Linked DNA regions of Homo sapiens: region 2 is linked to region 1. Evidence: fine-mapped expression QTL. Tissue or cell type: whole blood. Region 1 holds a variant in brackets; the other region holds the start of a gene. All regions are shown on one strand. Distances are from middle to middle.

The links. PIP is the estimated chance that this variant, and not a neighbour inherited with it, causes the effect.
Region 2: PSMB3 starts here. The variant in region 1 is fine-mapped to the expression of PSMB3 in whole blood (INTERVAL, PIP above 0.99).

The regions. Positions count from the first base shown.
Region 1 is chr17:38,827,882-38,833,027 of GRCh38, forward strand. No RefSeq gene overlaps it. Among named protein-coding and RNA genes, the nearest start is that of MIR4727, 4.6 kb to the left of the region's middle. The variant CT/C (reference allele first, on the strand shown) is at 2,080.
Region 2 is chr17:38,750,288-38,755,433 of GRCh38, forward strand. PSMB3 (proteasome 20S subunit beta 3) reads left to right here and starts at 2,454. Exons shown (of 6, transcript NM_002795.4): 1 at 2,454-2,542; 2 at 2,863-3,047. The coding sequence starts at 2,540. It overlaps TRN-GTT2-5 (tRNA-Asn (anticodon GTT) 2-5), which reads right to left and starts at 1,567; the gene lies at 1,494-1,567. LOC100287808 (a long non-coding RNA gene) reads left to right here. Exons shown (of 1, transcript NR_149004.1): 1 at 1-1,465. It also overlaps the pseudogene RNU6-866P.

The DNA of each region.
Region 1 (5,146 bases):
CAAAAAATAAAAGAGGGCCGGGCGCAGTGGCTCACGCCTGTAATCCCAGCACTTTGAGAGGCCAAGACAGGTGGATCACCTGAGGTCAGGAATCCAAGACCAGTCTGGCCAACATGGCGAAACCCCGTCTCTACTAAAAATACAAAAAAATTAGCTGGGCGTAGCAGTGCACGCCTGTAATCCCAGGTACTTAGGAGGCTAGGCAGGAGAATCGTTTGAACCCAGGAGGCAGAGGTTGCAGTGAGCTGAGATTGCACCACTGTACTCCAGCCTGGGTGACAGAGCCAGACTCCACCTCAAACTTAATTAATTAATTAATTTAATTAAATAAAGAAAAGCAAGCAGAGCACAGTGGCTCATGCCTGTAATCCCAGCACTTTGGGAGGCTGAGGTAGGAGGACTGCTTGAGCCCAGGAGTTTGAGACCAGCCTGGGCAACACAATAAGACACTGTCTGACAAAAAAATAAAAGGAAGAAAAAAGGAAAGAAAAGCAATGCTTTGGGAAAGAGTCTGGCAGTTCCTCAAAAGGTTAAACTTAGTTACCATATAACCCAGCATTTCTACTCCTGGGTATATACTCCCAAGAGAAATGAAAGCATACATCAATACAAAATATTGCCCATGAATGGCTTTTTATTTTGTTTTGTTTTGAGACAGAGTCTTGCTCTGTCTTCCAGGCTGGAGTACAGTGCTGTGCTCTTGGCTCACTGCAACCTTCACCCCACTGGTTCAAGCGATTATCGTGCCTCAGCCTCCCAAGTAGCTGGGATTACAGGCGCACACCACCACACCCGGTTAATTTTTTTGTATTTTTAGTAGAGAGGAGGTTTCACCATGTTGGCCAGGCTGGTCTCCAACTCCTGACCTCAAGTGATCTGCCCACCTCGGCTTCCCAAAGTGCTGGGATTATAGGTGTGAGCCACCACACCTGGCCAAAATCTTGTACGTGAATGTTCATAGTAGCCGTTATTCATACCAGTTAAAACATGGGGGAGGCTGGGCATGGTGTTTCATGCCTGTAATCCCAGGACTTTGAGAGGCCAAGATGGCCAGATCATTTGAGGCCAAGAGTTGGAGACCAGCCTGGCCAACATTGCAAAACCCTAAAAATACAAAAATTACTAAAAGTAAAAAATTAGCTGGGTGTGGTGGTGCACATCTGTAATCCCAACTATTCAGGAGGCTGAGAACCCAGGATTTGGAGGCTGCAGTAAGCCAAGATTGTACTACTGCACTCCAACCTGGGCAACAGAGTGAGACTCTGTCTCAAAAATAAAGTAGGGCAGAGAATCAAAACATATCCATTACCTGATGATGATGAATAGATAAAGTATGGTATATCCACACAGTGGAATATTATTTGGCCATAAAAAAAGAAGTACTGGCTACACATGGTGGCTCATGCCTGTAATCCAAGCACTTTGGGAGGCTGAGGCGGGCAGATCACGAGGTCAGGAGATCGAGACCATCCTGGCTAACACAGTGAAACTCCATTTCAACTAAAAATACAAAAAATTAGCTGGGCGTGGTGGCACATGCCTGTAGTCCCAGCTACTTGGGAGGCTGAGGCAGGAGAATCGCTTGAACAGGGGGGCGGAGGTTGCAGCGAGCCAAGATTGCACCACAGCACTCCAGCCTGGGTGACAGAGTGAGACTCCATCTCCAAAAAAAAATAAAAAAGAAGTACTGTTAAGAGCTACAACATAGATAGACTTTGAAAACAGTATGCTAAGTGAAAAAAGCCAGTCACAAAAGACCACATGTATCATTCCATTTATAGGAAATTTCTATAATAGGCAAATCAATAGAGACAGAAAGTAGATTAGTGGTTGCCTAGAGATGGGTAGGTTGGGAGGAAATAGGAAGTTGACTGCCAATGGGTATGGAGTTTCAGTTTGGTGTGATGAAATTGTGCTAAAATTGATTGTATCGATGGGTGAACAACTTTGTGAATATACTAAAAATGATTGAATTGTAGGCTTTTGTTGGCTGAATTGCACGGCATGTAAATTATATCAATAAAGCTATTAAAGAGAATCAGTATTACTTGCCATAAATAGAATGGAAACTAAAAATGA[CT/C]TTTTTTTTTTTTTTTGAGATGGGGTCTTGCTCTGTCCCCAGGCTGGAGTGCAGTGGCACGATCTCAGCTCACTGCAACCTCTACCTCCCAGGTTCAAGCGATTCCCCTGCCTCAGCCTCCCAAGTAGCTGGGATTACAGGCACGTGCCACCACACCCGGCTAATTTTTTATATTTTTTAGTAGAGATGGGGTTTCACCATGTTGGCCAAGATGGTCTCAATCTCCTGACCTCATGATCCGCCCGCCTCGGCCTCCAAAAGTGCTGGGATTACAGGCGTGAGCCACCGCGCCCGGCCTAAATATGACATTATTAAACACTAACTAGATACATTTTATTTTTCTTGAAATGGGTCTCAATATGTTGGTCAGGGTCTAAATATATTGGTTAAGCTGATCTCGATTCCTAGACTCAAGTGATGCTCCCACTTCAGCCTCCAGAGGAGCTGGGATTACAGGCTGGAGCCACCACTGTGCCTGACAGGAGGAATTCTTATTTGGTGCCAGCTCTCTAACACTTCTAAATCTTCTAAATCCAAAGTGCAAGGATTACAGGTGTGAGCCACCACGCCTAGCCAATCTCCCTCTCTTTTATTCAAAGAGTGTACAGTGCTGGGCATGGTGGCACATACCTATAATCCCAGCTACTTGGAAGGTTGAGGCAGGAGGATCACTTGAGCCCAGGAGTTGGAAGCTACAGTGAGCCGTGATTGTGCCACTGTAGTTCAGCTTGGGTGACAGAGTGAGAGTCCATCTCTTTAAAAAAAATTTTTTAAACGACTTTTTTCTTAAGTTACTGAGGATAGGAAAGGGAATAATTTTTTTAATTCTGTGATTCAGTGTTTTTGTCTATCTCCAGTCAAATTGCAAATGCCTGCAGTACCCATCCCACACTTGGGACAAACAGACACAAGATGTGAAGCTGGGCACGGTGCTCACACTTGTAGTCCCAGCACTTTCAGAGGCTGAGGTGGGAGAATCACTTGAGCCCAAGAGTTGGAGACCAGCCTGAGCAACAAAGCAAGACCTCCTCTCTACTTATGTTAAAAAAAAAAAAAATTAGCCAGGTGTAGTGGCATATGCCTGTAGTCCCAGTTGCTGGGGAGGCTGAGGCAGGAGGATTACTTGAGCCCATGAGTTTCAGGCTGCAGTGAGCCGTGGTCATGCTACTACACTGCAGCCTGGGTGACAGAGCGAGACCCTCTCTCAAAAAAAAAAAAAAAAAAAGATGTAAAGCTGAAGTACACCACCCAGAATGTGACATATGCCCCTTCCATTTAAGCAATAAGCAATTCTTTTTCATCTTATTTTATTTTATTTTATTTTTTTGAGAGGGAGTCTTGCTCTGTCGCCCAGACTGGAGTGCAGTGGCCTGGGTTCACGCCATTCTCCTGCCTCAGCCTCCTGAGTAGCTGGGACTACAGGCATCCACCACCACCACACCCAGCTAATTTTTTGTATTTTTAGTAGAGACGGGGTTTCACCGTGTTAGTCAGGATGGTCTCAATCTCCTGACGTCATGATCCGCCTGCCTCGGCCTCCCAAAGTGCTGGGGTTACAGGCGTGAGCCACCGCGCCTGGCCTCCTTTTCTCTCTTTTTTCCTTCCTTCCTTCTTTCCTTCCTTTTCTTTCTTTCTTTCCTTCCTTCTTTCTCTCTCTTTCTTTTCTTTCCTTCCTTCTTTCCTTCATTTTCTTTCTCTCTTTCTTTCCTTCCTTCCTACTTTCTTTCCTTCTTTTCTTTCTCTCTTTCTTCTTTCTTTCCTTTCTTCCTTCTTTCTTTCTTTTCTTTCTTTCCTTCCATCTTTCTCTCCTTTTCTTTCTTTATCTTTCCTTCCTTCTTTCCTTTTCTTGCTTTCCTTCTTCCTTCCTTTTTTCCTTCTTTTCTTTTTTTTTTCTTTTGAGATGGAGTCTCACTCTGTCACCCAGGCTGGAGTGCAGTGGCGCGATCTCGGCTCACTGCAAGCTCCGCCCCCCGGATTCATGCCATTCTCCTGCCTCAGCCTCCCAAGTAGCTGGGACTACAGGCACCCGCCACCACGCCTGGCTAATTTTTTTGTATTTTTAGTAGAGACGGGGTTTCACCGTGTTAGCCAGGATGGTCTTGATCTCCTGACCTCATGATCAGCCCGCCTTGGCTTCCCAAAGTGTTGGGATTACAGGCGTGAGCCACTGCTTCGGCCTCTTTTTTTTTTTTTTTTTTAGGAGAGAGAGTCTCACTCTTTTTGCCCAGGCTGGTGCAATCTCGGCTCACACAATCTCCACCTCCCAGATTCAAACGATTCTGGTGCCTCGGCCTCCCAAGTAGCTAGAATTACAGGTGCACGGCACCATGCCCGGCTAATTTTTATATTTTTAGTAGAGACGGAGTTTCACCATGTTGGTCAGGCTGGTCTCAAACTCCTGACCTCATGATCCACCCACCTCGGACTCCTGAAGTGCTGGGATTACAGGCGTGAGCCACCGCACCCGGCATTTCTCTCTCTCTCTCTCTTTTCCTTCTCTCTCCTTTCTTCTGTCTTTCCTTCCTTCTTTTCTTTATTTCTCTTTCTATTCTTCCTTCCTTCTTTCTTTCCTTCTTTTCTTTCTTTCTCTTTCTTTCCTTTTCTCTCTTTCTTTCTTTTTTTTTTTCCCAGAGTCTCACTCTGTCGCCCAGGCTGGAGTGCAGTGGTGCGATCTTGGCTCACTGCAAGCTCCGCCTCCCGGGTTCACGCCATTCTCCTGCCTCAGCCTCCCCAGTAGCTGGGACTACAGGCGCCCACCACCATGCCCGGCTAATTTTTTGTATTTTACGTAGAGACAGGGTTTCACCGTGTTAGCCAGGATGGTCTTGATCTCCTGACCTCGTGATCCACCCGCCTTGGCCTCCCAAAGTGCTGGGATTACAGGCGTGAGCCACCGCACCAAGCCTTTTTTTTTTTCTTTCGACAAAGTCTCGCTCTGTCGCCCAGGCTGGAGTGCAATGGCGCGATCTCAGCTCACTGCAACCTCTGCGTCCCAGGTTCAAGCGATTCTCCTGCCTCAGCCTCTCAAGTAGCTGGGATTACAGGCGTGCACCACCACGCCCGGCT
Region 2 (5,146 bases), 78 kb before region 1:
TCCATCCACTTATTCTTCGGTTGTTAAGCGCCAGACAGGAGAGAACCGCTAGAGAGGAGTGTGCTAAGACCCTATTACCCACTAAAACTCCATTTTCATCTTTTGCGTCCTGGATGACTAGTCTCCACATTCCTGGCCTTTCTGGTTTCTCAGGAGAACCTTCTGACCCAACTCTTCCCACATCGAAAGAGTTTCCTAGTCTTTTGTTCTACTACTAGCCGACATAGAAAGCACCTGTCATGTGCCAGTGTCAAATACTGCGCTAGGAACTGGGAACTCAAGGCACAGGAGCCTGGCTTTTGCGCAGGGCGCTCACAGGCCGGTGGGTGCAAACCCTGAAGGACACACAGCCTGTCCCTTTAGCGCCCATCGCTTCTGGTGTGAGCTCCCGCTAAGGGTGGGTGAGTACTGGGGTGGGCTTCCAGAAGAGGCCTCCTTTGAGCCGAATCTGCAGAGACCAAGTGTCTATGAGAACTGCTCAAGAGTGCTTTGCACATTCTCCTCCACAAAGGTCGAGGCTCCCACTGCGCCCAGGAATGCGCCTCGTCAGACATTAGGCGCCCCTTGATTTTGTGTTTGCATCTCACGCGGTCCTCTAGCTGACAAGTGCATCAGAAGAGTCACAGTGGCTGTCACAAGCCAGAGACTCGCAGAGGACAGGAACGCGGGAAATCTAGGCAATTACCTCCAGCATATACCAAGAGCTATTGCGAGGATCAGATCCCTTTAAAAATGGTGACGAGACAGGAGAGGGCGGCTCCTCTAGAGCTTTCCGGAACGTCTTTACCTCTGTGTCCTTTATACCTTTTATCTCCCCCAAACAAGGTCCTTAGTCAGTTTCTCCTTCTATTTCCCCATCTTCCTCCCCCACCTCCCTGTGTAGTTCTAGGGGGAAAAAATGTGTTGTTTTCCTTTTTTTCTGATGCTTCTAATATTAAATGCGTCTATTTTCCCACTCTCCATTGTCTTGAGGTCTTCCCCTACCCACCCTGCCTAGTTCTGTCACGTCCCTTCTTTCCCTGTATCACAACAATGTTCTCCCTTTCTCACCTTTGTTTCTCTTCATACTTGTTTCTCTCTCTGTGTCTCTCTCATTCTCTTCCCTTCCAAATGTAGTATTTGGAGACTGTAATATCGATTGAGGCAGACAATAGAAAACTGTCGAACCTCCACTGTAAATTCATTCTTAATCCTATGAAAAAATGCATCCTGAAACGTGTTGCATGCACAGTGAGACAAAAACCTGTGTCTTTAGGTTTCCTGCGATCTAGCTTGGAGGCGGGTTGGGGGGGTGTGGAGGGAAGTGCTGGAGAAATTATCCCATTATTGACTGAGCAGCAAAGAATTTTCAAGAACAGTGATTCTCCTAGAAAAAGTATTGCTGCTGCCATTTCAATGCAAAATTTGGCTTTTGAGTAAAAGGCTTAGGTTTTTATCTTCCGGGGAGAAAAAAAAAACCCAAAAGACAAAAAAAAAAAAAAAAAAGGTCATAGCGTCCCTGGGTGGGCTCGAACCACCAACCTTTCGGTTAACAGCCGAACGCGCTAACCGATTGCGCCACAGAGACCGAGTCGACTACCGGCGTAGTAGTGAGCCGAGTCAATGGGAGCGAGCCTGGACGGCGCAGACGCCGTAAGAGATGCCGCCATCGGGCGAAATAAGTGGAACCCGGGGGAGAAAGGGAAGGATCCTGATGGGGGAGGGAGGCGAAAGAGCTTGGGAGGAGAGGACGCGGGACGTGCACGCCCTTCCTCCATTGGAACGGCGAGAGGTCGACTCTGGCTATCCTCAGGTTCTACCTCAAACGTGGAGAGGCGCGGAACGTCCCTTTTTAGGGTGACCTGAGATTGAGGATACGTGAAGTCGGGCCGCAGGAAGTCCCCCAAATCAGAACAAGCTTCGGCTTCCAAACTCCCTTTCACAGCTGAACCCCTGCAGCCGCAAAATACCCGCGACGCCTACACGCGACGCCTTCCCCTTCCCACCTGCATCATTAAATTTCCATTTAATGGGCGCCTCCTATATACTAGGCACTGTTGTGGGCCAGTGAATATTCCGAGCCTAGGCAAGTGCCTGGTACACAGTAAACGCAGGATTTCTGGAGTGAATAAATAAGCTAGCACGACTAATACGACGAACTCATACATCACGTTGATAAGCGTCACGGTGCCCCTTCAGCTGGGGCCGCAGCTTCCTAAACCCAGTTTCACCAGCCCACGTGCGCGCAGGCTCCGCCCCCAGTCCCTGAGGTCCCGAGTCCAGGTCCGCCGAGATCCCACTATGCACCGTGTCGCAAGTCTCTTCCGCAGCCACAGTGACTTTTCACTTCCGCTTTTCCCGCCTCCGTTTTGACTTTGCAACCAAACTACCTGTACTGGTGACCGACAGGGACGTGTGACCAATAGAAAGCCCAGATGTCCAGGAAGAGTCCGCCTATCAGCCAATGAAGAGACAGCAGTGAGAGCGGTTGCGCAGTGAAGGCTAGACCCGGTTTACTGGAATTGCTCTGGCGATCGAGGGATCCTAGTACACCGCAATCATGGTGAGATGGGGAGTTAAAGCAAAGGGGCATGGGGAAGGATTGAGAAGCGGAGGGGGTCAGGAGAGGCTTGGGGACGAAAAGGGCCTAGGGTCGATGGAAGGAAGCGGTTTCAGTTCGAGGGGAGCGGGCCCCGGTGAGGACCAAGAGGGTGAGTGCGGCTCATTGCCGCCACACAGTGCTCATCCCAGCTGGAGAACCAGGGGTTCAGACGCCTCCGGAATGGAGAACGGGCGTACAGGAGCCTCCGCATCAGGAGCTGGGCCGGGGGCTGTGGCAGCGTTTGACCCCCCGCGCTGACCCCTCCGCTCTGTCTGTCCTAGTCTATTATGTCCTATAACGGAGGGGCCGTCATGGCCATGAAGGGGAAGAACTGTGTGGCCATCGCTGCAGACAGGCGCTTCGGGATCCAGGCCCAGATGGTGACCACGGACTTCCAGAAGATCTTTCCCATGGGTGACCGGCTGTACATCGGTCTGGCCGGGCTCGCCACTGACGTCCAGACAGTGTAAGTTTCAAGGGTCCCCGCCCACACCCAGGCCTCTTCTTGGACCATCCAACCCCGGCGTCTTGACCGGCCAAGGTGTCAGTCATCTACCACACACCACCAGTGAGTTTGAGACTTTGCCGCCTCCAAAAAACATGTCCTTCCCTTTCTTTTTTTTTTTTTTAGACAGGGACTTGCTCTGTCACCCAGGCTGGAGCTCAGTGGCATGATCTCAGCTCACTGCAACCTCCACCTCCCAGGCTCAAGCGATTCTCGTGCCTCAGCCTCCTAAGTAGCTGGGACTACAGGCGCGCACCACCATGCCTGGCTAATTTTTGTATTTTTAGTAGAGACAGGGTTTCACCATGTTGGCCAGGCTAGTTTCGAACTCCTGACCTCAAGTGATCCACCTGCCTCAGCCTCCCAAAGTGCTGGGATTACAGGCATGAGCCACCACACCTGGCCTGACTTTGATTTTGACAACAATTTTGAGCAGACAAGACAAGCCCAATAGAAACATCTTGCAAGCAGTTGGGGTTTTGTTATTACATCTCAGGGTTGGGGAAGCATTGGCAATGTGCCAAATCTATGGGAGCAGATTCTGGAGAGACAAAGTCTGTAGGGAGGGAAATAATGAGCGGCAGTTTGAGAGCTGAACGTTACATTTAGCAGTGAGGGGCGAAGAGAAGCCAGAGAAGAATAAGAGAGGAAAAGAACGGTGATAGGTTTTCAGGAGGGAATACGTGGTCACAGGGGGCAGGTCCTGCAGGGTACTGGTGCCTGAGGAGCAGCAGGTCCTGGATTTGTTTCCTAGAAGGTGGAGAGACTAGCTCACAAGCGTGGGTGGATGCCTGTCAGAAAATGTTCTCATTTCGGCTGGGCGCGGTGGCTCACACCTGTAATCCCAACACTTTGGGAGGCTGAGGTGGGCGGATATCTTGAGATCAGGAGTTCCAGACCAGCCTGGCCAACATGGTGAAACGCTGTCTCTACTAAAAATACAAAAATTAGCCAGGCTGGGTGGTGGGCACCTGTAATCCCAGCTACTCGGGAGGCTGAGGCTGGAGAATTGCTTGAACCTGACAGACGGACGTTGCAGTGAGCTGAAATTGTGCCACTGCACTCTAGCCTGGGCAACAGAGCGAGACTCTGTCTCAAACAAAATAAAAAAAGAAAGAATAAAAGAAAATGTTCTCATTTCTCTTAAAACTCCCTGAGTCTCAAGAACATAACACTTACTGAGATCTCACCCAGCCTGCCCTTTTTTCCTGTCTGGTAGAGTCAGAGAATGACATCCTGGGGTTCCTGTCAGTGAAGTCTCCCGTGAGCCTTCCCTTCTGCAGTCACTGCTGTTCTCACACCATTTCCTTTTCTTCAGAGGGCTTTTCTCACTGCGTTTGCTTCCTTCTGGGCAATGACTGCTCATTTCACTAGGCCTCAGTTTCCTTACCTGGAAGATGAAGCTCAAGTCATTTCTAAGTCTCTTTGCTCTGGTGTCCTGAGACTCATTGCTTTTCCTCCAGCAGGTGTGGCATTGGTCTGCTCTATGCAGGGGCCTATCCTGGGGCTCTGAGATGGAACTGGCAAGCTGTGACCTTTTTTCCTTTTTTCACCAGAGCTGCCAAATGGCCTTTTTCTAAGGCATCTTTCAAGTCTGTTAGCACATAGCACAGCAGTTGGTGCTGCCCCCTTTTTTTTTTTTTTGTCACCCAGGCTGGTGACATAAACTTAACTCACTGCAACCTCCGCCTCCAAGGCTCAAGTGATCCTCCCACCTCACCCTCCCAAGTAGCTGGGACTACAGGTGTGTGCCACCATGCCCAGCTAATTTTTGTAGTTATTGTAAGAGGCAAGGTTTCGCTATGTTGCCCACAGCTGAACTCCTGAGCTCAAGCAATCCTTCCGCCTCAGTCTCCCAAAGTGCTGGGATTACAGGTGTGACCCACTGCGCCCAGCCTAAACATTTTTAATATGGAACGCTTCACAAATTTGCATGTCATCCTTCTGCTAATCTTCCCTGTATTATTCCAGTTTTAATATATGTGCTGCTGGCCAGGCGTAGTGGCTCACGCCTGTAATCCCAGCACTTTGGGAGGCCAAGGTGGGCAGATCACGAAGTC